Homo sapiens: one gene and its partners. The protein of the gene in region 1 interacts with the protein of each later gene in a biochemical or structural test. Each region holds a gene or a part of one and is shown in the gene's direction. Other genes may lie near its edges. The genes, in order: MAGI1, LPXN, TANC2, PDGFRB, TANC1, MAP4 and PRR16.

Region 1 (3,893 bases):
TGGGACTTCGAGGAAACCCGACAGCGGGGCATGCCGACCCAAGGACCGGGCGCCGGAGGGACGGAGGGACGCGCAGGCCGAGCGCGCGGCAGCCGCCAACGGCCCCAAGAGGCGGTCCCCAGAGAAGCGGAGGGAGGGCACCCGCAGCGCCGACAACACTTTGGAGAGGAGGGAGAAGCACGAGAAGAGACGAGACGTCTCTCCGGAGCGGAGGCGAGAGCGGTCACCCACCCGCAGGAGAGACGGCTCCCCCAGCCGGCGGAGACGGTCTCTGGAGAGACTCCTGGAGCAGAGGAGGTCCCCCGAGCGCAGGAGAGGGGGCTCGCCCGAGCGCAGGGCCAAGTCCACCGACCGGAGGCGCGCACGCTCCCCCGAGCGCAGGAGAGAGCGGTCCCTGGACAAAAGGAACAGAGAGGACAGAGCCAGCCACCGAGAAAGGGAAGAGGCGAATCTGAAACAGGATGCCGGCAGAAGTTCCAGACATCCCCCGGAGCAGAGAAGGCGACCTTACAAAGAATGTAGCACCGACCTCAGTATCTGAGACGCTGAGTCACATTCCAACCTTTACCGTGTCAAAGGTTCTAAGAGGAAAGTCACAAACCTGAAATTATTTAGTTTCTTACCTAATGAAGCATCTGACACCTGATGATCCTATGAATAACAACAAACATTTTATGCATTTGAAATCTTATAAGAAAAAATATATATGAAAAGTATTGTGCCTGATGTATCATATTAAAGAAAGTATTTTTAAATGCATACTTTTTTGGAAATTATTTGCCAAATGCTGGCCCAAAGGGATATAAATTTTGTTTCTACGTAACCTGTAGAATCGTCAAGAATTGTTCCCGTTTTGGGGCAATCTTTTTCTCTCCTGGTTAAATGGGGCTGTTGATCATTTTCTCTACGTAAGGGAATTTATTGATTAAGTTTAATTAATTTGATATAGACTGTCATGTAGTGATGTAGTGCTATACTGTAGTCGGAAGTTTTTCTTAAAAGCAAAGAGCAAAAATGCAAAGTTTTATTTGTAAAAGCTGAGGACCCTTGGGGATGGATTAGGTTTGCCGATGATCCTAAAAGTAAGCAAACTGTATGACAAGACTACTATTGCAAATGAAGGATATTTATAGCTAAACTGCGCAGCACAAAGAAGTTTTATATTGTGAGTTATAGTTGGTTCAGAAAACAGTTTGTACTCTCCCTGGCCCAGGAAGGCACACAGACAAAAATGTCGGCCACTTTTACTCAAATACAGCCCAAGCACAGACAGTCAGGTTCGTGATCATCACCAACATCTGATAAAATCTCATTGAAGGCAATGCCATCACAGCTTTGCTCAATTACTACGAGGAAGAGACAACAAGCATCTTTCGTGTTGTCTCGTCTGATTGGAGGCTGAATAGTAGATGGAATGGGGGGACAGTGTGCCTGGTGTGAGGAAGACGTAAGATCCCCAATTTGGAAAGCATGCCCCCCTCCCTTTTAGTAGAAGCCCATGGTTGCCCTTTGCCAAACTGGGGAGGAGGCAATGAGCCTTGGTGGAAGGAACCTCTCTGTTGATATTTAAAGAAGTGAGGGCTGTGGGTATTCATTGTTAGAAATGCCAATTTCACTTTGAAACCATAGTCCAAGTCTCTAGGTTGGTAGAAGGGAAAGGAAGGAAGTGGTCCCAGTGATTCTAGGTCTGGTTGGGAAACTTCTGCCTCATGACTCTGTCCTTTGAGTCCTTTGGACAGCAGCACAAAACATAACAATTTTTATTTTTAAACAGACCCATTCTTTTTGATCCCACAGGAGCTGTGGTTGGGTCGGCCGTAGCCCCGGGATGTGGTTTAAGTGGATTACTGCCTAGCTGAGCCAAAATGTTTGCTTGTACCTGTTGGACCACTACAGCAAACCGCTGCTTACAGTGCATTGTGTATTTCTGTAGTACTGTTTTGCATTTTCCATAGAGACAGAAAACTTTGCAAGTCAATCACTGTTGTTCCCATGGTACTGTAAGAAAAAAAAAAAGGAAAAAGAAAAAAAAAAAGAAAACCAGCCAATCATTGCGTGTACAGAGCTAAAAATTGTAATTAATAGAGCCTGTTGGGAAAAAAAAGAAAACAACTGTTGCCTTTTTTTCTTGTATAAAAGAGAATTTATGACAAAATTTAGCTGTGAGGAATGTGATACGTGTTTATATTTCTGAATATGGAACAAATTGATTCATGGGGATATATTTTAATGTAAACTAAATCAGGTATGTAAAGTTGTTTTAAAATGGGAGACTATATAAGTAATTCTCTAAAGCTTTAGTTGGTTTGAATATCATCATTTCCTCCATGGTGAGCCTGCTTGTGAATTATTAAGCACTTGTTTGCATTCTCTGTTCTTCACTCATTTATTTCTTGCAGTGTGCTATGGACTTAATGCTCTTTCTGTATTGATGAAAAGCAGTATGTGGGCCAATCTTTTTATAAAACACTATGCATATATAAATATTACATTGTTCATAGCTTTATTTGACTTATGGGTTTATACATAACATTAGAATGAGTAGCTGTAGTTGTGTGGACATTTATAAAACAAGTTCCTTTCCTGGAACAGACACAATATACATTCTGTAGCTAAAAAGGAGGGAAAAGTCTGTGAATGCTATTTTTATTATTAAAGTTTTCCATACAAAGCATACATTGAGCTGTAGTAAGGCTGAGGAAGAGTACAACTGAATAATGATGTTCTTTTTCATCAAGTTCCTAAGAGCTGACTTGGAGATTTTATTCCCAGGGCTCCACTGCTAGGATTCTTCTCACTAGTTCTAACAAAATCTGTGATGTTAAATGACTGATGCTCTCAATTGTGATCCAGAGTTTTAAATAAATGAAATCAAGGTGGATTTTGGGAATATATCCTGAAGTTAACATCTTGATGTCCTTCTTGTTGTAAGATGATATTTGGCAATTTAAAATCTATGTGCTACCCACCTGGGCTTGTCTCAATCCGTGGACTTTTTGGTGTGGCAGTTTCACCTGAATTCCACACATCAGATTTGTTTGGAAATATTGTACTGTACAGGGACTATGCATTATGCAGAAAGATATAGTTTTCTTTGAACTGCTGTAACCTTAAATTGGAAACTGATTCTTGTGAGCCTACTTTCCTTAATCCCGCCGCCCCCCTCCCCCACTTAATGTAAATGTCTTGATGAGAGATAATGGATGAGTATTTTGTATGATGAAATCAAACGATTTAGGAATTTGTCTCCCTCCGTTACACAGTTGATGCCTGAAAGAATGTTGGGGGGGAGGACTCAACACCCTAATTGTATTTTTTAAGTTTCTTTTGTGAAAGATTTTTTAATGCATTTTTACTGTAAAAATACATGGAAATGTATGCATTCCACAACCACTATTGCTTCTGGATTGATATCTTCCTTGTCTCTATGTTGTCTCAAATGTATCAGGGTCAAGTAATCAATTGAGGGCCCCTGACTCCAACTTGATGAAATGCCGTTGTGTTGAAAGAGCAGGATCTATGCCATTGCAATAGCATAGTGCCTTGCTACTCAAAGTGTGGTCTGTGGACCAGCTGCCTCATCATCACTGAGGAGCTTGTTAGAAATGCAGATTCTCAGCCCTACTCCAGACCTACTGAGTCAGAATGTACAGTTAATAAGATCCTCAGCTATGCCTTATGCACATGAAAGTTTAAACAGCACAGCACAGTATAGCACAGAACCCTGATAATAAAACAAATCCTGCCAAGCTAAGAGCTTCATCACTTCTGGTGTGATTCTTGGGCACATTCCTTAACCTCCTCTGAAGCCTCCATTTCCTCATCTGTAAAAGGACATACTTCACAGAGCTAAGAATAGATACACATCTTTGGCAATCAGAAGAGTCCTCAGT
Region 2 (3,500 bases), on another chromosome or scaffold:
AGTCCCAAGTATCTACTCAAATATTACTTCCTTAGAGGGGCCTTCTTTGATTATTACCTCCATCTAAATCAATTCTTCTTACCATCTTGCTGTGTCCCTTCTATCTCTTTCTATAACTTATCTCTGTCTGACATTACAACATATATTTATTTATTTAATTATTTATTGTCTATCGCCCACAGAATGCAATTCCATGAGGCCAGACACTTGGTCTGTCTTATCTTTGCTTTAATCCAAGTGCTTAGAGCAGTGATTGGCACAAACCAGGTATTCAACAATTATTGCCAAATAAATGAGTAAAAGGGAGATGTGACTAATTTTTGAACTGGGGTCATCCTAAGATCTTCAAAGGGTATCATCTTCATGTACTAAATTTCCTACATTAAGAAAAGATTTACAAATATAAAATTAGTCAGATTTCATTTGGCCTGAGGAGTTTAGGATGAAAGGGAGATGAAAAGATTTTTATTGGTGTTGAAATTTTAGATTTTTCCAATGTCTTGCAGGAAGGTTGGGGAAAGGCCAAGAGATCAGTCAGTAGAGGTGAATTTATAGAGTCATTAGAAGATGCCAATGAGAATAAAAATGAGGCTGATTCTGTTCTTGGTTCTTCCCTTGGGCCAGGTTGCAGTGAGAGCAGATGCTGGCAAGAAGCACTTACCAGACAAGCAGGATCACAAGGCCTCCCTGGACTCAATGCTTGGGGGTCTGGAGCAGGAATTGCAGGACCTTGGCATTGCCACAGTGCCCAAGGGCCATTGTGCATCCTGCCAGAAACCGATTGCTGGGAAGGTGAGATGGGCTGAAATTTTGGTCCTACAGCCTTCTTTGTCTCTCTCTGTCTCATCAAGGTTTGCTCTTTCCCCTTATATTTTAAGATATTTTAGTTAGCATTAATAATTACTAATCACTTACAGTGCTCTGGCCACTGAGCTAAGTGCTTTACAAGTATTTCCTCATTTAATGGTCACATCAGCCCTTCAAGAAGAATGATTGCTCCCTTTGTAAAGATGAGGAAACTGAGGACTCAGAGACATTAATGGACATATCCAAGGCATAATAAGAGGTAGAGGTAAGATCTGAAACCAGGAGACTGTCTCCTGAGTTTGAGTTCTTGACCATTTTTCTGTACTGCCTTTACTGAGATGACCTTTCTCACTGCTCCCTTTGTTCACACATTCCCAGTCTAAATTGATTGATTACAATTTTCAGCTGAACTCAGCTCCAAGTCACAGCTGCAAACTCCTGTTCTGCATCGTCCTTCACCGAAGCTATGATAAAAAGCTTTGAGACCTGACTGCATGGGGCGTGGAATAAAGTGTTCAAACTAGAGGAATAAAAACTGTCATTTGGCCTTTTCCTCTTCCAGGGGTCCCTTCCACACTAAGGCTACAGTTACAACTTCTCTGTCATCAATGTGCTATATGTTGTTTCTGCCACCCCCTGTGGCAGTGCAGTGGTTGTGAACATTTACAGGCTTTCATCACAGTGATCAGTCCCGGAAGTGGGCATCCTTTTATTATCAATCCATAAAGCACAGACCACAGATGGCCTTAGGTGGAACCTAGGTCTAGGCCTCAGTGTTGTATAATTCCAGGGCGTGTTGTCTACAAGGGGTACAATGTGAAGAGTGCTCCCTAGAGTTGTGCAACCTGTAGGCTGTAGAGCACTCAACTGGCCTCCTGTGTCAGGCTTTATTTCACTCCACAGGTGATCCATGCTCTAGGGCAATCATGGCATCCTGAGCATTTTGTCTGTACTCATTGCAAAGAAGAGATTGGCTCCAGTCCCTTCTTTGAGCGGAGTGGCTTGGCCTACTGCCCCAACGACTACCACCAACTTTTTTCTCCACGCTGTGCTTACTGCGCTGCTCCCATCCTGGATGTAAGTAAATCCCCGCTCCTCTCCAGCTTTCAGTCACTCACTTAGAACCAGAGTCATGCTTTACAACTTCTGCATCATTATAATATCTGTGTGTTCCCTTTCCAGAAAGTGCTGACAGCAATGAACCAGACCTGGCACCCAGAGCACTTCTTCTGCTCTCACTGCGGAGAGGTGTTTGGTGCAGAAGGTATGACCCGACTTGAGAGGCTGTATCCCACACCCCAGTGGGTAGTTATAAGACCAGCAACACCTTTCCTGGTAGTCACGGGAGTCCTGGTTCCTATCAGTACTATCAAAGTGCCCATTTCAGTACTAGATACCATCCCTCCCTACCTTTCTCCAACATTTATAATTTCCCTTTAAATTGATTTTTTAAATCACAGAAATACAAATGCATAGTTTAAAAACTCAAATATTACTTCAAGGGTAATATTGAAAAAGCCTTTTCTTGTTGAATATTGAAAAAGTCCCTTTCTCATCTCCAAATCCAGTTCTCCTCTCCAAATTATTTTAGCTGTTTCTTCTGATATTTACTTATTTTTTGTTGTTGTTGTTGTTTGTTTTTTTGAGACGGAGTCTCACTGTGTTGCCCAGGCTGGAGTGCAGTGGTGCGATCTCTGGTGCGATCTCCGCCCACTGCAACCTCCACCTCCTGGGTTCAAGCGATTCTCCTGCCTCAGCCTCCCAAGTAGCTGGGACTACAGGCACTTGCCACCACACCCGGTTAATTTTTGTATTTTTAGTAGGGACAATGTTTCACCATATTGGCCAGGCTGGTCTTGAACTCCTGACCTCGTGATCCGCCCGCCTTGGCCTCCCAAAGTGCTGGCATTACAGGCATGAACTACTGCGCCTGGCCTGCTTATGTGTTTTAAATAATAACTTTATATTGTTATAGATTGTTTTATTTTTCCAGTTTTAACCATTATGTATTGACTGTCTAAGAGGGAAGATGAGGTTTAGAAATGTTATTATTACCCCACTCACTCCTAACATATTTCCCCTCCCCTGTTTTTTCAATATATAATTATGTCATAATTACAGGTTAGATCAGTATTAAGTGTGCATATGTTGACAATCATAGAATACTGCTCACAAGTAAGCCATGTAGCAAACTGACTACACTAGAGTCTGGATTTTAGAGTCAGACTTCCAGGTTCAAATCTGGGTTGTGGTATTTGTTCAAGTCATTTAACATCTCTGTACCTTACTTTCCTCATCAGTAAAATAGTCCTAATGAAATTGCCTACCTTATAGGGTTGTTATGAGGATTTAGAGACAATACAAGCGTGGTATTTAGAATAGTGCCAAGCACATGGAGGTATAGTAGTGTTAATATTATTATCACAGTGTCCTTTTGGTATAAATTCATTTTTTTCTAAAGTTAACATTTGAATCCTTTTTGAAATTGGCTTAGTTTTTATTGTACTTATCACTAAGTTATGCAACAGAACTGTGAAATTCTTTTCAAAATGGCCAACTACATCTGGCAACAAGTCAGTTTCTTTCTTTTCTTTTTTTTTTTTCTGGAGATATCCCTCCAGGAGACTTTCCTCCTCCTGATTCAACATGAAATGATTTCTTCCTGCTGAGTAGCAGTCATTCTGGTTCATTAA
Region 3 (3,500 bases), on another chromosome or scaffold:
TATGTGTTGTTATTTCTGTTTTACAGATGAGAATCTGAAACACAGAGAGGTTAAATAACTTGCCCAATACTATATAGCTGAGAAGTAGAAGAGCTAAGTTTCCATTTAGGAATGCTAGCTCCAGAACCTGTGCTCCTCATCAATATGCTATATTGCCCTCTCACTCAAGGTAGTATTGGCAAGGCATAATTAAAATGCATGTGCCCATCATAAAGCAAGTACAATAGATGTGGATAAACCTGGACAACTCACATAGATGTTAAGTCTGCATATATACAAAAGATACAGTTATTTGCAGTGTGAACATTTCTCTTTAGGAATTTGTTTTTTAACTTATTTCTGGGATTATGCGTAGAGGAGTATTAGTACTTTTTATGTGGTTAAGGAAATATTTGTGATGGTGGTTGGTTTGAAGGGAACTTCAGAGGTAAAAAGTTAATTTCAAGTAGTTTAATATAGTGTGTGTGTGTGTGTGTGTATATAAATACACATTCATACACACACACACAGCCTTTTTAAGAGCACCAGTAAACCTTTACTGCTTATTTTCTGTAGGGAAATTAAGGATAAATTACAATATTTTTCTTCCTACTCATATTTTTATGACCTCTTTTTCATTTATATTAAAAACTACCATAATTAGCACAAATGGATTAGATGCCTATGTACATTTTACCTCTAATGTCAACAAATGTTTGTTCAGATTTTTCTCACACTTAAACATTGTTTTATAAGATATTGACCACATATGACAAAGTATTTATAAAAATGTGTAAAATATAAAGACTTCACAATGCAGCCAACACTTACATGCCTTTTACCCAGTTTAAGAAATGGAACATCATCTTTCACAATTATAATAGTTATTTTCTTCTCTTAGCCAAATTGCTTCTGCCATTCTTTTTCAACAGAAACCTTTCCTTATTGTGCTGCGAATTGCATATCTCATGTAACCAAACACTTCCCTTTTTATATACATTTGTTGATATGGGAATTCAATATAATCTACTGCTTATGGCTAAAACTTATTCAGCATATATGCTTACGTAATTTAATATATTTAATAAATTGTCATACACTCAGACTATGCTTTGTATTTGTATTGGTTACTGGTTGGTAGTTCATTTTAGCATACTTCACTTGTAAAACTTAATTTGGTTTGCAAATTAGGATTTTACTAACATTGTTAAACATTAATAGATTATTTCCCTCTTCCATCATGAATTCTTGACTGTCCCACGCTAGCTCTGTTTTTTCTTCTTTTCCCCATAACTGCCTTTGCTCTTTATTTCTTAAGTGAGTATGAATTATTTTGAATGGAGAGGGAAGGAGACCCTAGAAAGGAGTATACTAATCCAGTCATTTCAAAGGGGACTATTAGGGTAGTTGGTACTGATTGAATATATGGTAGAACAAGTGTGCATAAAAGAAATGCATGAAAATCCTCTCCTTGTCATATTTCTTCCTTTTACAGTAGAATTAAAATGAGATCTGAGACACTCTGATTGGGCACACTAGCTGAATATTGTTGGATTGAACTTACCCAGAATCACCAATGTTAGCTGGGATATTTTTGCTGACAGTACAATATGCAGATTTTAATTCAGGGAGCTAGAACAAGCTGTTGCAGAGGGCTGTTTACTCTTCTAGTACTAGTCTAATCAAGGCACCAAATATTATAAAATAGTTTGGAAGCTAGTTCAATTATTTGGACTTTTTTTTTCTTTCTGAATGACTTGAGACTCAGCATTGTTATATTTGCTTAATGTGCCTGTAGTCATCAAATGCTGTGATTATTTTGAGGGAAAGGCACTCTGTAAATATACTATACAAATAAATAGTTTAGACTTCGTTGTAATACCGTGAGAATACCGCTTGGTTTCTTTGAATAGCGTCTTTTGTAGTAACTTGCATTAGATGAAGACCGTTTAAAATGAAAAAAAAAATGAGTTAAGGAGATGTGTGTATGGTGATGCAGAGTGTATATCCCTGATGAGTTTCTTGAAAAGGCCACGGAGAGAAATAGGTTAAAGAAGAGCTTAAAGACTAGAGCTGTGTTTTCCCACTCAGCAGTCTCCTGCTGCCCTTCGCTTTCCCTTTCTTTTCTCTTTTCAAGACAGGATCTCACTATGTCTCCCAGGGTAGGGTGCAGTGGTGTGATCTTAGCTTATTGCAGCCTACGTCTCCTGGGCTCAGGCGATCCTCTCACCTCAGCCTGCTGAGTAGCTGAGACTATAGGCACGTGCCACCATATCCAGCTAATTTTTGTACTTTTTGTAGAGACAGTGTTTCACTCTGTTGTCCAGGCTCATCTCAAACTCCTGGACTCAAGTGATCCACCTGCCTTGGCCTCCCAAAGTGCTGGGATTACAGGTGTGAGCCAACTGTGCCCAGCCAGTTTTCTTTCTTTTAGAGCAGGGGTCTCTAACCCCTGGACCATCATGGCCTGTTTGGAACCAGGGTGCACAGCAGGAGGTGAGTGGCTGGCCAGCCAGCATTACTGTGTGAGCACCTCCTCCTGTCAGATCAGCAGCTTCATTAGATTCTCATAGGAGCTTGAACCCTATTGTGAACTGCTCATGAGAGGGATCCGGGTTGTCCGTCCTTATGAGAATCTAATGCCTGATGATCTGAGGTGGAACAGTTTCATCCCCAAACCATCTCTGCCCCCCTACCCTCTGGAAAAATTGTCTGGAAAAACGTCCCTGTTGCCAAAAAGGTTGGGGACCGCTGTTTCAGAGGACATTTTACTTTGCGTATTTAAGATTCAAGGTAATATTAGATGGAGAACAGGAACTTTGGGTCTGAGTTTTAGAAGGCTAAAGCAGGTTACGCAATTAGTGAAAAAACTTTCTGGGACCTTTTTTTTTCTAGAAGGGTCAAAGTAACTATAATACCATAATTTTTTCTGGAAACAAATTTATTAGGTCAGTTTATTTTAAAAAATCTTTATAAATTATGTGAAAGCTGTGTTTGTGGATATGTCATATAAGTTGTTTTTTTGTTGTGGGCCACACATGACGTATCTTGTTATGTTCGGTCTCTTGTTTGCTCTTGAATAGTTAAAGGTAAGCATTACTAAATTTAAGAGTCAAAATAATTGTGTTAGTGTTCTATTATGCCTTTTCTTCCCCGTAATATCAATTTCTGTCTTTATTCACTACATGGTTTATAGTGCATCTTAAACTCCTTTCTTTGTTTATCAGAACTTAAGAGAGTCTCATGTCACTCATTTAAACTGAGTAGTTGCATTATAGAAATGATCTTGTTGGTGTGTTTTTTTAAAAATCCAATTGCTGAGGAAACACCTTTAGTGTTTTTGTCAACTTTGCCTACATTTCTTCCATTGCGTTGCTTCCAGAGTGATCTTTCTAGATAGTCATTTGATCATGTCACTTTTTTCTTCAGAATCTTTCACTGGCTCCTCATCACTGAATGGATAAAGTGGAAACTCCTTAGCAAACCGTTTAAGGTCCTTAATGATCTGGTCCCTGCCTCCT
Region 4 (3,500 bases), on another chromosome or scaffold:
AAGAGCCCTGCATTTCCATTTTGTGCTTGCCCCACAAATTATGTAGCTTGTCCTGCCAGGGAGTTCAGGCTGAGTTTGGGACGGCTTCATCCCCAACACTGGCCTTGCAGCCTCCACTGTCCCCATCCTAATCCACAGCCTCCCACTAAATGCCAGCCTGCTGGTGTCATCCTCCTGCATGGAGGCCCCCTCCCCACAGTGCCTGGAGTTACAGCATTGCCCTGCCAAGCCAGCAGCTACTACCCGCCATCACTATCAACACCTTGAAAAGTTGGTGGTCCAGAGAAAATCCTCACACAGCACCGCAGACCTTTCCTGAAGTCTCCCTGCCTCCTTCCCTGGCCTCCTGCTGCCTCCTTCCCAGGCCATCACCTACCTGTTTGCTGAAGAGCCCCAGTTTCTAGCCCAACAGATCTCTCCCTGCCATTTCTCCCAGATGCCTTTCATCTCTCACAGAGCCCTGGCCATACCTTTCCCTGGCATCATCTGCCAAAAAACTCAAGAAACCCTGGAGGCCTAGCTCAAGGCCACCTCCCTCAGGAAGCCATACCCGCTCTCCCCACTGGAGTAATCATATACTGTTGTTAGTCACCATTTACTGGGCACCTATGATGTGCCAAGTGCTGTGCGTCATCATCTCTGGCCCTCCCAGAAATGGAAAAGGAGGTCTCCCATGCCATTTCCCAGGAAATTGGGACTCAGATAAGTTAAACTCAGAGAACTGGGGCTTGGACCCAGGAATAAGTGGCTTCCAGCTGGAACCACTGCTCCCAGCCTGGCGGGGCTCCCATCCCTGCCCTGGATGGCATCAGGCGCAGCCTGTTGGCTTCAGAGTGCCATATGTCTGTTCTGCCCTCACCAGCTCATCTCCATCACCTCCCTGGAAGGAAAGAGTCACCATTGCCTATCCATGCCAGTTCCCTAGCCTAGTGAATCCTGTGTTATTAGGAGGCAGCCGAGGGCCCAGGACTGAAGAGCTGACCCTACAGAGCCATTTAATCTCTCATATCGTGTAAGCGTTTACTGAGCACCTACTGTAGGCCTAATTCCATATTAGGAAGTTGAAGAGAGTCCAGATCGTTGTTAGGTAGGTATCCTGATTTGTGGGAAGTCATATTAAAGGACTAAGACAAAAGTTCAGGAAAGAAGTAATTGACAGACAGTGGTGATTAGATGGGTCTGGCCTTAGGTTGGCCACCGAATCGCCGAGTGTGCTAGGATGAGACACTCCTCACTGAGCCTCAGGACACTGAAAAGGGCTGTTGCTACTGATTGTACCAATAATCAGCAGCTACCTCTTCCTGAGGAGCGTCTTTTGGGAGAGGCCTTCTTGCACCGTCTCATTTATCACATGCATCACTTTGCTGAGAAGCCTAGTCCCGTGGAGTCTTGGCTGTGCGCGCAAGGCCGAGTGAGTGAGTGACTTCTTCTCCCTTGAGTGAATGAATAATAATAATGTGGCCACCAACTTTGCAGAGGGCTGTGTGCCAGGCCCTATTCTAAGCATTTTGCTTGTGTTAACTCCTTCAATAGCCCTGACAACCCAGTGATGAGCCCCAATCTACAGATGAGAAAACTGAGGCACAGAGGGGTGGTTAAGTGAATGACCGAAGACAGGGGTGGGAGGACAGATGCTGAGACAGTGAGAGGGTCAGTGAAACATGGGGGTTCTCTGCCCTCCTGCTCTGCCGCCCAGGAGGGCTCTGAGGGGAATCTCAATGTTTGGTAATTGGCACTGATAAGTGAAGGGTTTACTCATTAGCTAGCTACCCCTCCCCTATTTGCAGGCCCTGGGCCTGTGGGGGAAGGCTGTGTGCTGGTGGGTCAGTGTGAATGGCCCAAGGCCTGCCTGTCCCCTGCCCACTTGGCTCTGAGAACCCATTCTATTTGCGGCCCCCACCCCAGCCCATGGCTGCTCCGGGCTGGCAGCAGCCCGGGGAACAGAAGGTTTGCTTGTCTGCGCCTGCCGCACCCCCCTCCTCAGTCTCAGCCTGGGACCCCTCTCAGGGGCTCCTTTGGCTGCCAAGGGCCTGGCACTCCCTGTTGCCATGGCACCGGCCGGAGATGAGGCTCTGGGGGGTGGGGATGGGGAGGGCAGCAGCAGGATGGTGGAGGCCTGGAACTCTGCAGCTACAGAGGCCCTGGCCCTCTGCAAACAGTGGAAGGGGGTGCTGGGGCCCCCACAGGGGCAGGCCTGGACCCTGTGCACAGCAGGCCTGTGGCAGAGCCGGCCACACACCTGGGCTGATTGCCTGGATGCTGTATCCCGCAGGAGCACTGCCCCTGCCAGACCCTGGCTTTCCTAAGCAAAAACTCTCTCCTCAGCCTTGTGTGCTCACCCTCAGCCTCTGCAGCGAAATTGTGGAGTTCTATCCCTAGTCCTGGGTTCTATCCCTAGCTCGACTTTAAAATTATTGGTGACCCGGGGCAGGCCTCCCGCATACACTGCCCCTCAGTCAGAGCAGAGGCGGGACCCAGATCCCTGAGGATCTTCTCATCCCTGAGATCCTGGATTCCGTATGGACGCCATTAGAGGGAGAACGTTTCTCTGTGGACAGATGGACAGAACTGTTTCTGGTCAGGAGACAGACAGTCTGGCATGACGGGCAAGAATTCAGGTTTTGGCAGTTGTGGTGATGCGCACCTGTAGTCCCAGCTACTCAGGAGGCTGAGGCGGGAGGATCACTTGAGCCCAGGAGTTTGAGGCTATAGTGAGCTGTGAGCTATGATCATGCCACCACACCACTGTACTCCAGCGTGGGCAACAGAGCGAGACCCTGTCTCTAAAAAAAAGAAAGAATATAGGCTTTGGAGTCAGGCCGGCCTGAGTTTGCATTCCCGTTCCTTTGCATCTTACTTATTGTGTGACCTTGGGAAAGTTACCAAAAGTCTCTGAGACTCATCATTCTCCTCTGTAAAATGGGAATAATGAGTGTACCCCCCTCACAGGGTGGTCGTGAGGATGAAACAAAATCTCCAGATCATCTCATTTAGCAGAGTGCCTGGCTCTAAATTAGTAGGGACTTTTGTTTGTTTCCAGATTGGGGGGGATCAGAACAATAACTAGAAAGATGTCCTGTATTTGGGGAGAGGGTGGTTGGTGGATAGAAGCAAGACCAATAAGCAGAGAATACAGTGAGATAAACTGTACTCAGTGTAATTAACAATTCTCAATAGTCTGCCCTCTGAAGATTCTAAGCTGGCTAAGAATGAAATGGGCCACAGGTGAGGTGGTGAGAGCCCTGTCATGGGAGGTGTGCAATTGCAGAGAAGGTGGGGGAGATGTGAATAGAGGGAATGTACTAAGACTGTAGGGCTCTGTGAAAAATGGAGTGACTGTTTCCCACTCAAACTGTCAGCTTCAGCTTTACCCAGCTCAAAAGACAGCGTGAAAGAGTGAAAGGAGAAGTTGGGACAAAGAAGGCGAAAAGATAAGGCTGACGACTTTATTTTTTAATTTATTTTTTTGAGACGGAGTTTCACTCTTGTTGCCCAGGCTG
Region 5 (3,500 bases), on another chromosome or scaffold:
AAAATTTATATTTTTATTGTATTTATTGTATTTTATTGTGTTTATTGTATTGTTATCTTTTTTCCAGTGGTCAGTTACTAGAATATTTTTTGAATATTTTCTAACCTAGGTTTGTTGAATCTGTGGCCATGGAACCTGAGATATGGAGGGTTGGGTGTGGAGGGGGGTGACTGTGCTTACTACTATAATCCTGCTTTTGATTAGTTTTCCACTGGCCATGTACTTAAGGGTAAGGTGGATGCGTCCCCTGCCCCAGGGAGTGAATTTTGATTAAGCCATCAATTTTAGTAATGCCATACCTTTTGCCAGTGACTCATTAATGAATATGTATGTGACGCCTGTTAGGTCCTGGCATATTTGAAGCATAAGGTTGTCAGCACAAGAGAACAAGTAGCACCGAGTGCAGACTAAAGGTGGCCTAAGACCACAATTACTTTTTTTTTTTTTGTCGGTGTCAGGGGTGTAGGAGGCGGGCGGGTAGAGACAGGGTCTCACCATGTTGCCCAGGCTCGTCTCGAACTCCTGGCCTCAAGCAATCCTTCCACCTCAGTTTCCCAAAGTGCTGGATTACAGAGTGAACCACCATCCCCAGCCCACAATGACTTATTTTAGCTGCTGATTAGCCAGCCCTAGAACCACTGTGACTCAGAACTTCTGTGAGAAAAAACATTTTCGTTATTGTTTCTTTCTTATCTTTTTTTTTTTTTTTTTTAAGCTAGGGTCTCACTCTATCACCCAGGCTGGACTGCAGTGGCATGATCATGGCTCACTGTAGCCTCTGCCTCCTGGGCTCAAGTGATCCTCCCACCTCAGCCTCCCAAATAGCTGGGACTACAGGTGTGCACCACCACACCTGGCTAATTTTTGTATTTTTTGTAGAGATGGGGTTTCCCCATGTTGCCCAGGCTGGTCCCGAACTCCTGGGCTCAAGGGATCCTCCCACCTTGGCCTCCCAAAGTGCTGGGATTACAGGTGTGAGCCACTGTGCCCAGCCTCATTATTGTTTAAGATCAGTGGTCCCCAGAGTGGAGTGTGCTAGATCATCCAATATGGGAGGGAAGAAAATATTCAAGAATGTTAGAAAAAATTAAGCTTTTAAAATATTTAATGTATGAGTTGACACTGGTTGGTATATCTGGTAGTCTTTTATCAACTTACATTATATGAGGTTGCCTGAGGGAAGACTGGGCCTTTTACAACCTGGTGGAATTGACAGTGGTACCCTCATTCTTATTCTTGCCTTTGGTGAACTCTATCCATCTAAATACATTTATGGCTAGATTATCTGGTTTTAACTAAACTGACCCCCAGAAAATGGGCGAGTGGTTTAAAAAGATTCTTGCAAAGAAAGTGTAATGATAATGATATAAGTATAAAGGAACAAGAAAATGTTCTTATGAGTTTAGAACATGACTTTTAAAACAAATTTGACAAGAAGGTGGCTCAAAAATTATGTATGGGCTGAGCGCGGTGACTCATGCCTGTAATCCCAGCACTTTGGGAGGCCAAGGCGGGCAGATCACCTGAGGTCAGGAGTTTAAGACCAGCCTGGCCAACATGGTGAAACCCCGTCTCTACTAAAAATACAAAAATTAGCCAGGTGTGGTAGTGTACACCTGTAATCTCAGCTACTCGAGAGGCTGAGGCAGGAGAATCACTTGAACCTGGGAGGTGGAGGTTGCCGTGAGCCAAGATTGTGCCACTGAACTCTAGCCTCGGCGGCAGAATGAGACTCCGTCTTGAAAAACAACAACAACAACAACAAAATTATGTTTGGATTTGTATTATTAATAAAAATGAACTTAAAAATACTGTTTGACTCCCATCCTTTAAAAGTTTTAAATGTTGTATAATGTATATACTACATTCATGTGTGTGTATACATACCATTCATAACTAGTTTTAATTACACATAAATTAATACAATTTATAATATGTTAGTATATATGTTATAAATTTTTTCCCCTGAAATTCCTGAGCTTCAATACGTTTTTAAAATTTTTTACTTTTTATTTTTTTAGAGGGAGTCTTGCTCTGTTGCCCAAGCTGGAGTACAGTGGTGTGATGATAGTTCACTGCAGCCTCCAACTCCTGGGCTCAAGTGATCCTGTCCCCTCAGACTCCCAAGTATCTGGGACTACAGGTGTGCACCATCACACCTGGCTTAATTAAAAAAAAATTTTTTTTTTGAGATGGAAACTTTCTCTGTTGCCCAGGTTGGAGTGCAGTGGTGCTGTCTCAGCTCACCATAGCCTCTGCCTCCTGGGTTCGAGTGATTGTCCTGCCTCAGCCTCCTGAATAGCTGGGATTACAGGTGTGCACCACCACACCTGGCTAATTTTTGTATTTTTCATAGACATGGGGTTTCACCATGTTGGCCAGGCTGGTCTCAAACTCCTGAGCTCAAGTGATCTGCCCGCCTCGGCCTCCCAAAGTGCTGGGATTACAGGCATGAGCCACCGTGCCTGGCTAATTTTTTTTTTTTTTTTTAACTGATAGTCCTGCGTGATCAAAAAAGCTTTGATACCACAATTTAAGTCACTTAGAGTTAGGTATTTTTGTTACTTGCAGCTGAAAGCATCATACCTGATATAAGGACAGATAAGAGTAGTAGCTGTCCCTGTTTTATTCTTAGCTTTCAAGAATCTCTGTGATCTGGACCCTAACTTGTTTGCAGGCCCAGCTGTCCTCTCCTTGTCTCTGCTAATACCACTGAACTCCTGCCCGTCCCTGATACTTTGTTTCAATTTTGCCTCTTCCCTCACCCTACCACCACCACTGAAATTTTGACTTTCAAGGGCTAGCTTAAATAAATATTGCTTTCTTATGAACATTTTTTCTGATTTACTCCCGCTTCCACATTTCAGTTTTTCTTTCCTTTTAGTCTCCCTAGTACATTGTACATTCATTATAATGTCTTTCTCTGTTTGCTTTTTATTATTAAGTTGTTCGCCTATTGGCTTTGCAGATGGGTTGTAGGCTTTTTGATGGTAGGGGGTCCTGTCTTACCTTTCTCATTTAAAAAGAAAACAATCTGTTTCTCCTTTGGGAGAAAGGGAGACAGAGAATCCACAGTTGTTAAACATCACTCTGGACTTGTTACTCTGGGGTGGGTCTCGCCTCCAGCCTTCTGGCAGCCTTAGGAAGGCAGGGAGCTCCATGTACATGAAAGGAGATTGAGGGCAGGGAGCTCACAGAACCAAGACAGCAGGACCCAGGATTCAGACCTGGAAAATTTTTATTTCCTGGCTGGTTTGTGTGCCCTCATGCATGTTATTTACAGTGCCATGTTCTTTCACATGGGAACACTGACACAGGTGAAATGGGAGGTTCCATAGGATGATAGTGCAAAAACATTAAAGACAATCCTAGCAGATGCAGTGAGTTCAAGGGAGAGTCCTTGTGGAGTAACACGAAAGGCCTGGTGGATGAGATGTATGAAGATCTAAATGCCTGCAGATAGTGAGCTGTCTGCAACTACCACAAAGCAAAATCATGGG
Region 6 (3,500 bases), about 17 Mb from region 1:
GGCTATCTGATGTACATAACCAAATCTTAGAGAAGGGATTATTTATTATTAACTCATAACAAATGAATTAGTGAATATTGATTCTCTACCATGTGCAGTCACATATGATTTCGGTTTACTTACTATTGACAACTCATCTATATTCATCATAGGATAATAAGAAATATTGGCCAGGCATGGTGGCTCACGCCTGTAATCCTAATACTTTGGGAGGCCGAGGTGGGCAGATCACTTGAGATCAGGAGTTTGAGACTAGCCTGGCCAACGTGGAGAAACCTTGTCTCTACAAAAAAATACAAAAATTAGCCAGGCATGGTGGCGGGCATCTGTAATCCCAGCTACTTAAGAGGCTGAGGCAGGAGAATTGCTTGAACCTGGGAGGTAGAGGTTGCAGTGAACCAAGATGGCACCACTGCACTCCAGCCTTGGCAACAGAGCAAGACTCCACCTCAAAAAAAAAAAAGAAAGAAAGAAAGAAATATTAATCTTTCTAGTTGCATTCACCAGGAATGAGTTTTGGATTTCTTCTATATTCCAGATCCCTTTAAGATGTACCATGATGATGACCTGGCAGATTTGGTCTTTCCCTCCAGTGCGACAGCTGATACTTCAATATTTGCAGGACAAAATGATCCCTTGAAAGACAGTTACGGTATGGCTTCTTCAAATGGATTTATTCTGTAGGGAAGGAAAAAAATTTTTTCTTTACTCATCTTTGGTTCACTGACTAGGGCTCTGTGACAAAAGATTAACAAGAAAAAAGAGACCAAAGTTTAAAATGTGAATTTAATATGTACATGAGAGGTACCTAGGGAATGAGTAACTCCGCAAGAGGTGGCTTTAGAATTCCACCTTATATAGCTTCTTCAATAAAGAATGACAAATTTTTTTTTTGAGAGGTGAGAAGATGAAGGAAAAGACTTTTGAGTCTCTAGGGGCCGCAAATTGTGGGAGACAGGTAAATGGTAGGTAAAAGCTAGTTAGTAAAGGTTGCTGTGTAGATTCCTATGGTGCCATCTCCAGGCTAATAATAGCCTTCAGCTTAAAAAAGTCCTTATGCCAAAGTAGCGTATTTTGGGGTGGCATATTCTGGTGTCCTTTAGTTGTTTAATGCCAAACAATCAACATGGCCTTTCACACATCACCTTTGAAGCTAACCACTAAGAAAAGTCAGATTTAGGGGCTGTGGGTGTGACAAGGCTCTCTTTGGATTAATCAAAGGAGACAATTCACAGATTCACAGTTGGGCTGTCATCTCCCCTTTTTTTTGAGACAGGGTCTCACTCTGTCACCCAGGTTGGAGTGCAGTGATGCGATCACGGCCCACTGCAGCCTTGGCCTCCTGGTCAGGTGATCCTCCCACCTCAATCTCCTGAGCAGCTGGGATTACAGGTGTGTACCACTATGCCTGGCTAATTTTTTGTAGAGATGGGGTTTTGTCACGTTGCCCAGGCTGGTCTTGAACTCCTGGGCTCAAGTGATCCACCCGCTTCAGCCTCCCAAAGTGCTGAGATTACAGGCGTGAGCCTTTGCACCCAGCCACATTTTTCTACTTCTTCATTTACAGGCAGACACAGTGGCTCATGCCTGTAACCCTAGCACTTTGGGAAGCTGAGGTGACAGGATTGCTTGAGCCCAGCAATTTGAAACCAATCTGGGCAACATAGGGAGATCCTGTCCTACAAAAAATTTTAAAATTCATCCAGGCGTGGTGGCACATGCCTGTAGTCTCAGCTACTCAAGAGGCTGAGGTGGAAGGATTGCTTGAGCCCAGAAGGTCGAGGCTGCATTGAGCCATGATCATGCCACTGTACTCCAGCCTGGACAACAGAGTTGAGACCCTGTCTTAAAAAAAAAAAAAAAAAAAAAAAACCATCTGGGTGCAGTGGCACACGCCCGTAATCCCAGCACTTTGGGAGGCCAAGGCGGATGGATCACTTGAGGCCAGGAGTTCAAGACCAGCCTGGCCAAAATGGTGAAATCCCGTCTCTACTAAAAATACAAAAATTAGGCTGGGCCTAATGGCTCATGCCTGTAATCCCAGCACTTTGGGAGGCAGAGGCGGGCAGATCACCTGAGGTCAGGAGTTTGAGACCAGCCTGGCCAACATGGTGAAACCCCATCTCTACTAAAAATAGAAAAATTAGGCCGAGTGTGGTGGCTCATGCCTGTAATCCCAGCACTTTGGGAGACGGAGGTGGGCAGATCACCTGAGGTCAGGAGTTCGAGACCAGCCTGGCCAACATGGTGAAACACTGTCTCGACTAAAAATACAAAAATTAGCTGGGAGTGGTGGCAGACACCTATAATCCCAGCTACTCAGGAGGCTGAGTCAGAAGAATCACTTGAACCTGGGAGGTGGAGGTTGCAGTGAGCTGAGATTGTGCCATTGCACTCCAGCCTGGGCAACGAGCAAGAATCCATCTCAAAAATTAATAAATAAATATAATAAAAATAAGAAAATTAGCTGGGCAAACAACAACAACAACAACAACAACAAAACTGCTACAAAGTATTTTAATAAAATTGTCTTCTAATGTTGGAAAGGGAGGTGTTAATCTCATTTTGCAGATGAAGAAATTAAGACTCGCAGTTTTTTACTATAGTATATTATGTTGGTTGTGGTGTTGGAACTAGAGTTCAATCATTAATATTTTGAATCTTTATATTACCCTTTATATATTATATAGAAAGTAGCCAGTGAATGTTGATTAATGGCACTACTGGGATATACTATACCACCTACTAACAACTAGCTAAAACCTGAAGAATGTCAGCAGTGTTTCCTTTAAAACTTGTTTGCGTTGTCGGCCGGGCGCGGTGTCTCACACCTGTAATCCCAGCACGTTGGGAGGCCAAGGCGGGTGGATCATGAGGTCAGGAGTTCGAGACCAATCTGGCCAACATAGTGACACCCCATCTCTATTAAAAATACAAAAAAATTAGCCAGGTGTGGTGGTGTGTGCTTGTAGTCCCAGCTACTTGAGAGGCTGAGGCAGGAGAATGGCGTGAACCTGGGAGGCAGAGATTGCAGCGAGCCGAGATCGTGCCATTGCACTCCAGCCCAGGCGACAGTGCGAGACTCTGTCTCAAAAAAAGAAAAAAAACTTTTTTTGCATTGTTTTTTATTAGTCTGTGTCTTCCTGGCAATATATGCAGCTGATTTTAAATATCAAATACCTCTTAGGCCGGGCGCGGTGGTTCACGCCTGTAATCCCAGCACTTTGGGAGGCCGAGGCGGTTGGATCAAGAGGTCAGGAGATCGAGACTATCCGGGCTAACATGGTGAAACCCCGCCTCTACTAAAAATACAAAAAATTAGCCGGGAGCTGTGGCAGGCGCCTGTAGTCCCAGCTACTCGGGAGACTGAGGCAGGAGAATGGCGTGAACCCGGGAAGCGGAGCTTGCAGTGAGCCGAGATCACGCCACTTCACTCTGTCTGCGTGGGCAACAGAGCGAAACTCTGTCTCAAAAAAAAAACAAACAAAACAAAACAAAAC
Region 7 (3,500 bases), on another chromosome or scaffold:
AATATAAATTATCGGCGAGCTCTTCTTAACTTGCAACAGAAATTAAAAATAAAAAAGTAGTTATGACTATATCACTATGGCAGTCATCATATAGTATTTATTTTTTCTTTCTGCTTTTAAAAAATATCTAGTTAAAATGCAATCTTCTTTAATTCTGTTCTTTGTTTTTGTGTAATTTCTGCACCAACAATATTAAACTTTGGTTTGAGGTTACTCTGAAATTGCTTTTCTTCATAGAAGTTTTCTGGGCTTAAGTCATCTGAAAACTCAGGTAGTAGGATAGAATCAAACATAATAGTAATTGCTTGAAACACTTTAATAAGTAGTGACAAAACTCTAGTCTGCTCAGCAAGAAGAGTTGTTATTTTGGGTATCTGTTTTATGATTATTTAGTTATAATTACTTAATCAGTTATAATTGGATTATATATTAGAAGCAGAGGAACAGGCTTTCTAGAAAGTCAAAGAGCAGCCTTATTCTACTCTCAGAATTTAGTAAAATCTCAAATAATTTGACTTTTCAGAAATAATATGGGTCCTTTTGTTTTCTATGCTATTAATATATTGGAAAAGCCTTAAATATAATTCAGTATACTTATTGAGCACCTACCATGTTCCAAGTACTATAACACCTTTTAAATTGCTACCAAGATGAATAAGGCATAGTTTCTGGTCTCAGTGAGCTCCAAAGGTTAGTTAGGGATATATTTATCCTGTCTTCCAACATCAGCAGTATAAAAAGACATTGTGGCCTTTAGTGGCCACTCTCACTGCAGGCTTGGGGAAATCGAGAATTGAGAATGAGAGTGAGTATATGTTGATTTATAAAATGATGTGTGCTGCATACTTAGTAGTATGGCAAGTCTTTGATGAAGAAATAAGCTTAAAAAGATGAAAATATATGAATTTTAAGAAATTTACAGTTGACTTAGATTGTCATGGTTAACATAAATGGATCAATACCATATACAGGAGATTACATATTCAAATGTTGTAACTAAATACTGAAGATTTCCATGAAAGCTAAGTCTTTTGGAGAAATGGAGAGTTAAAAAGGAAGATTTTGAATTCTTCTTTTTCTTAATGTAAATAGGGTTTTAAGAGGTAGTCACAGGTAAAAGGAAATAGGTTTGGACTACAAGAGTAATCCATGTTGCATTTTTCTACACATTGAAAAAAAAGAAGAAAATAGTGGTGAAACTCTAGAGTTTTAGTGATAAAATTAACCATAACTGGTAGAGTAGGTGTGAGTGATACTTTTTCACTAAGAAATGTAGAAACAAAGCAATTGCTTTTTAAAATAGTTCTCAAATAATCTAATGCCTTTGAGTAGCAATATGCCTGTTCTTTTATGAAGATCTCACTGGTAAACTATTTTGCATTAAATGCTGGTATTAATATGGGATCACATATCTTATTGGTCAGAGTGACACTGGAATCTGTAATAATCAGCCTTTTATCTGGAAACAAAACTAATTGCAGCTTTAGCTGGATTCTCTTTTAGTTTAGACTTGTTATAACCTTGAGCTTTTCTTGTAGTGTTTATTTTTATGATTTCAAGTAACAAGGCTACTATATGAGTTGAAAAACATATGTAAATAATTTCTTGAGAGGCTTTCTGAATAGACATGACTCTAACAGAGAAACTAAAATAAAGTTGTTTTGTTGTTGCCTTAGAATCACTCAGTGACTGGATCTCCATTGGTGAGAAGTATGTCAGCATTGTTGCCATGGACTGGAAAGCACCCATAATTTGTCTTACAATGGCATAAACTGAAATAAATTTAAGTTGAATTTTGAACAATTTGAACCCCATAGGAAACAGTCTGATTTGAACTGATGAAAACAGAATTAACAATTATCTGAAAAATATTTTCACTTCTAAATGTTCCCTCTTTTAATGTCTTAACCACTTGATGTTCTATAGTTTATTGTCTGGAAATTCCTACCGAGTATTTTTTGGTTAATGAGCCCATGCATAAAAAATTCGTTACAAGAAAAAATTATAGAGAATAATCTCGGAACTATTTTCTTTTTGTTTGAGACAGTATCTTGCCCTGTCACTTAGGTTGTAGGGCAGTGTTAGAGATCTTGGCTCACTGCAGCCTCCATCTCTTAGGTTGAAGGAGTCTTACCACCTCAGCCTTCTGAGTAGCTGGGACTAGAGGCATGCGCCGCCATGCCTGGCTAATTTTTAATTTTTTTTTTTTTGATAGAGATGGTGTCTTGCCATATTCCCCAGGCTGATCTTGAACACCTGTCTTCAAGTCATCCTCCTGCTTAGGCCTCCCAAAGTGGTAGAATTATAGGTATGAGCCACCATGTCTGGCTTGAAGTATTTTCCAAGTTCTAAAGTTGTGTATAAATAGAATTTAGTAGTTCTTTTAATTGTAGCAATAGTCATACTTTTACTACTTTATACCACAGTCTACCTCCCCAAACTGTGGTATATTTACCAAATGCTAAAATGCTCTGAAATTTTTCTTTACTTAGGCATGATGGCCTAGCAGTTACCAAAAATAATTTTGAGAACATAGAGGTAGCCAATAATCATCCATCACTGTCTATTTCCAATGAATTAAAACATTCAACACTTAGAGAATTAGCTGATAAGAAATTCAAGCAGCCTTAAAGTAATAGATAGTGTGTTTCAGGCAACAGTGAAGTAATAGATAATAAAGCCAGTGTAATAGGTTTCATTATTACCTGGATTATGTTATTTTCATCCTTGCTTCTCTGAGGATCTCAGGTACTTAAATCTAAATGTAGGAAAAAAGATAGAAATGCAAGTTTGAGCAAAACATATTTTCCCAAACTATAGAACTTTTCTTCTGTAGAGATAGTTCTTGAAAAATTTCAGGGGCAATTTTAGAGATTTAGAGTAATAAAATTCCAGTAGGTCGCTGATTCAACTCTGATTGAAATATACATGACTGACATCAAGCTGCAAATACAAAGTTAACAAACAACAAAGGGCACTATTAAAAAAATCAAATTTATTTTTTCTGATGTTAGGAGCAGCACATGAATATTATAGAAAGTTTGCAAAAATCTAAAGAAATATAAAGGAGAAAACAAAAATTATCTTTAGTACCACATAAAAATAAGTATACTAAACATTTTGTCATATTTTCTTTTAGTCTTTTTGTATGCATATTTTAACATAGATGAAGTTATACAAAGTTATAAATTATAAGCAATGACATTTTCTACTTTCTTGAATGATATAGATCGTAACTATTACACAGATTTGCTATAAGTTACTTCATACTTCCCTTAATATTGGGTATTCTATTTATTTCCAGCTTTTCATGGTTATTAAACGTCACTAGAAAGAGCAGTTTTGGCAATATGAATATCTAACAGAGGTCTTACTCTCTGCCAGGTACTCTTCTCAGCGCATTTATTTATATTAAATTATCTAATTCTCAAAACAGGTAGATGAGGAAGTTACTGATATTGCCCATTTTACACATAAGAAATCTGAGGTCCGAGATAGTA

What was found.
Region 2: the proteins of MAGI1 (region 1) and LPXN interact in a test that uses a peptide from one of them, tested with the Homo sapiens proteins (one large-scale study listed by IntAct).
Region 3: the proteins of MAGI1 (region 1) and TANC2 interact in a test that uses a peptide from one of them, tested with the Homo sapiens proteins (one large-scale study listed by IntAct).
Region 4: the proteins of MAGI1 (region 1) and PDGFRB interact in a test that uses a peptide from one of them, tested with the Homo sapiens proteins (one large-scale study listed by IntAct).
Region 5: the proteins of MAGI1 (region 1) and TANC1 interact in a test that uses a peptide from one of them, tested with the Homo sapiens proteins (one large-scale study listed by IntAct).
Region 6: the proteins of MAGI1 (region 1) and MAP4 interact in a test that uses a peptide from one of them, tested with the Homo sapiens proteins (one large-scale study listed by IntAct).
Region 7: the proteins of MAGI1 (region 1) and PRR16 interact in a test that uses a peptide from one of them, tested with the Homo sapiens proteins (one large-scale study listed by IntAct).

The regions. Positions count from the first base shown.
Region 1 is NC_000003.12:65,353,026-65,356,918, reverse strand, and holds the end of MAGI1 (membrane-associated guanylate kinase, WW and PDZ domain-containing protein 1), read left to right. Parts: coding exon 1-541; 3' UTR 542-3,393; downstream 3,394-3,893. UniProt on the Homo sapiens protein: Plays a role in coupling actin fibers to cell junctions in endothelial cells, via its interaction with AMOTL2 and CDH5. May regulate acid-induced ASIC3 currents by modulating its expression at the cell surface.
Region 2 is NC_000011.10:58,548,357-58,551,856, reverse strand, and holds part of LPXN (leupaxin), read left to right. Parts: intron 1-624; coding exon 625-792; intron 793-976; coding exon of another isoform or gene 977-1,060; exon of another isoform or gene 1,061-1,704; intron 1,705-1,710; coding exon 1,711-1,884; intron 1,885-1,989; coding exon 1,990-2,071; intron 2,072-3,500. UniProt on the Homo sapiens protein: Transcriptional coactivator for androgen receptor (AR) and serum response factor (SRF). Contributes to the regulation of cell adhesion, spreading and cell migration and acts as a negative regulator in integrin-mediated cell adhesion events.
Region 3 is NC_000017.11:62,969,235-62,972,734, forward strand, and holds part of TANC2 (protein TANC2), read left to right. Parts: intron 1-3,500. UniProt on the Homo sapiens protein: Scaffolding protein in the dendritic spines which acts as immobile postsynaptic posts able to recruit KIF1A-driven dense core vesicles to dendritic spines.
Region 4 is NC_000005.10:150,145,846-150,149,345, reverse strand, and holds part of PDGFRB (platelet-derived growth factor receptor beta isoform 1 precursor), read left to right. Parts: intron 1-3,500. UniProt on the Homo sapiens protein: Tyrosine-protein kinase that acts as a cell-surface receptor for homodimeric PDGFB and PDGFD and for heterodimers formed by PDGFA and PDGFB, and plays an essential role in the regulation of embryonic development, cell proliferation, survival, differentiation, chemotaxis and migration.
Region 5 is NC_000002.12:158,975,140-158,978,639, forward strand, and holds part of TANC1 (protein TANC1), read left to right. Parts: intron 1-3,500. UniProt on the Homo sapiens protein: May be a scaffold component in the postsynaptic density.
Region 6 is NC_000003.12:47,918,917-47,922,416, reverse strand, and holds part of MAP4 (microtubule-associated protein 4), read left to right. Parts: intron 1-538; coding exon 539-652; intron 653-3,500. UniProt on the Homo sapiens protein: Non-neuronal microtubule-associated protein. Promotes microtubule assembly.
Region 7 is NC_000005.10:120,467,300-120,470,799, forward strand, and holds part of PRR16 (protein Largen), read left to right. Parts: intron 1-3,500. UniProt on the Homo sapiens protein: Regulator of cell size that promotes cell size increase independently of mTOR and Hippo signaling pathways. Acts by stimulating the translation of specific mRNAs, including those encoding proteins affecting mitochondrial functions.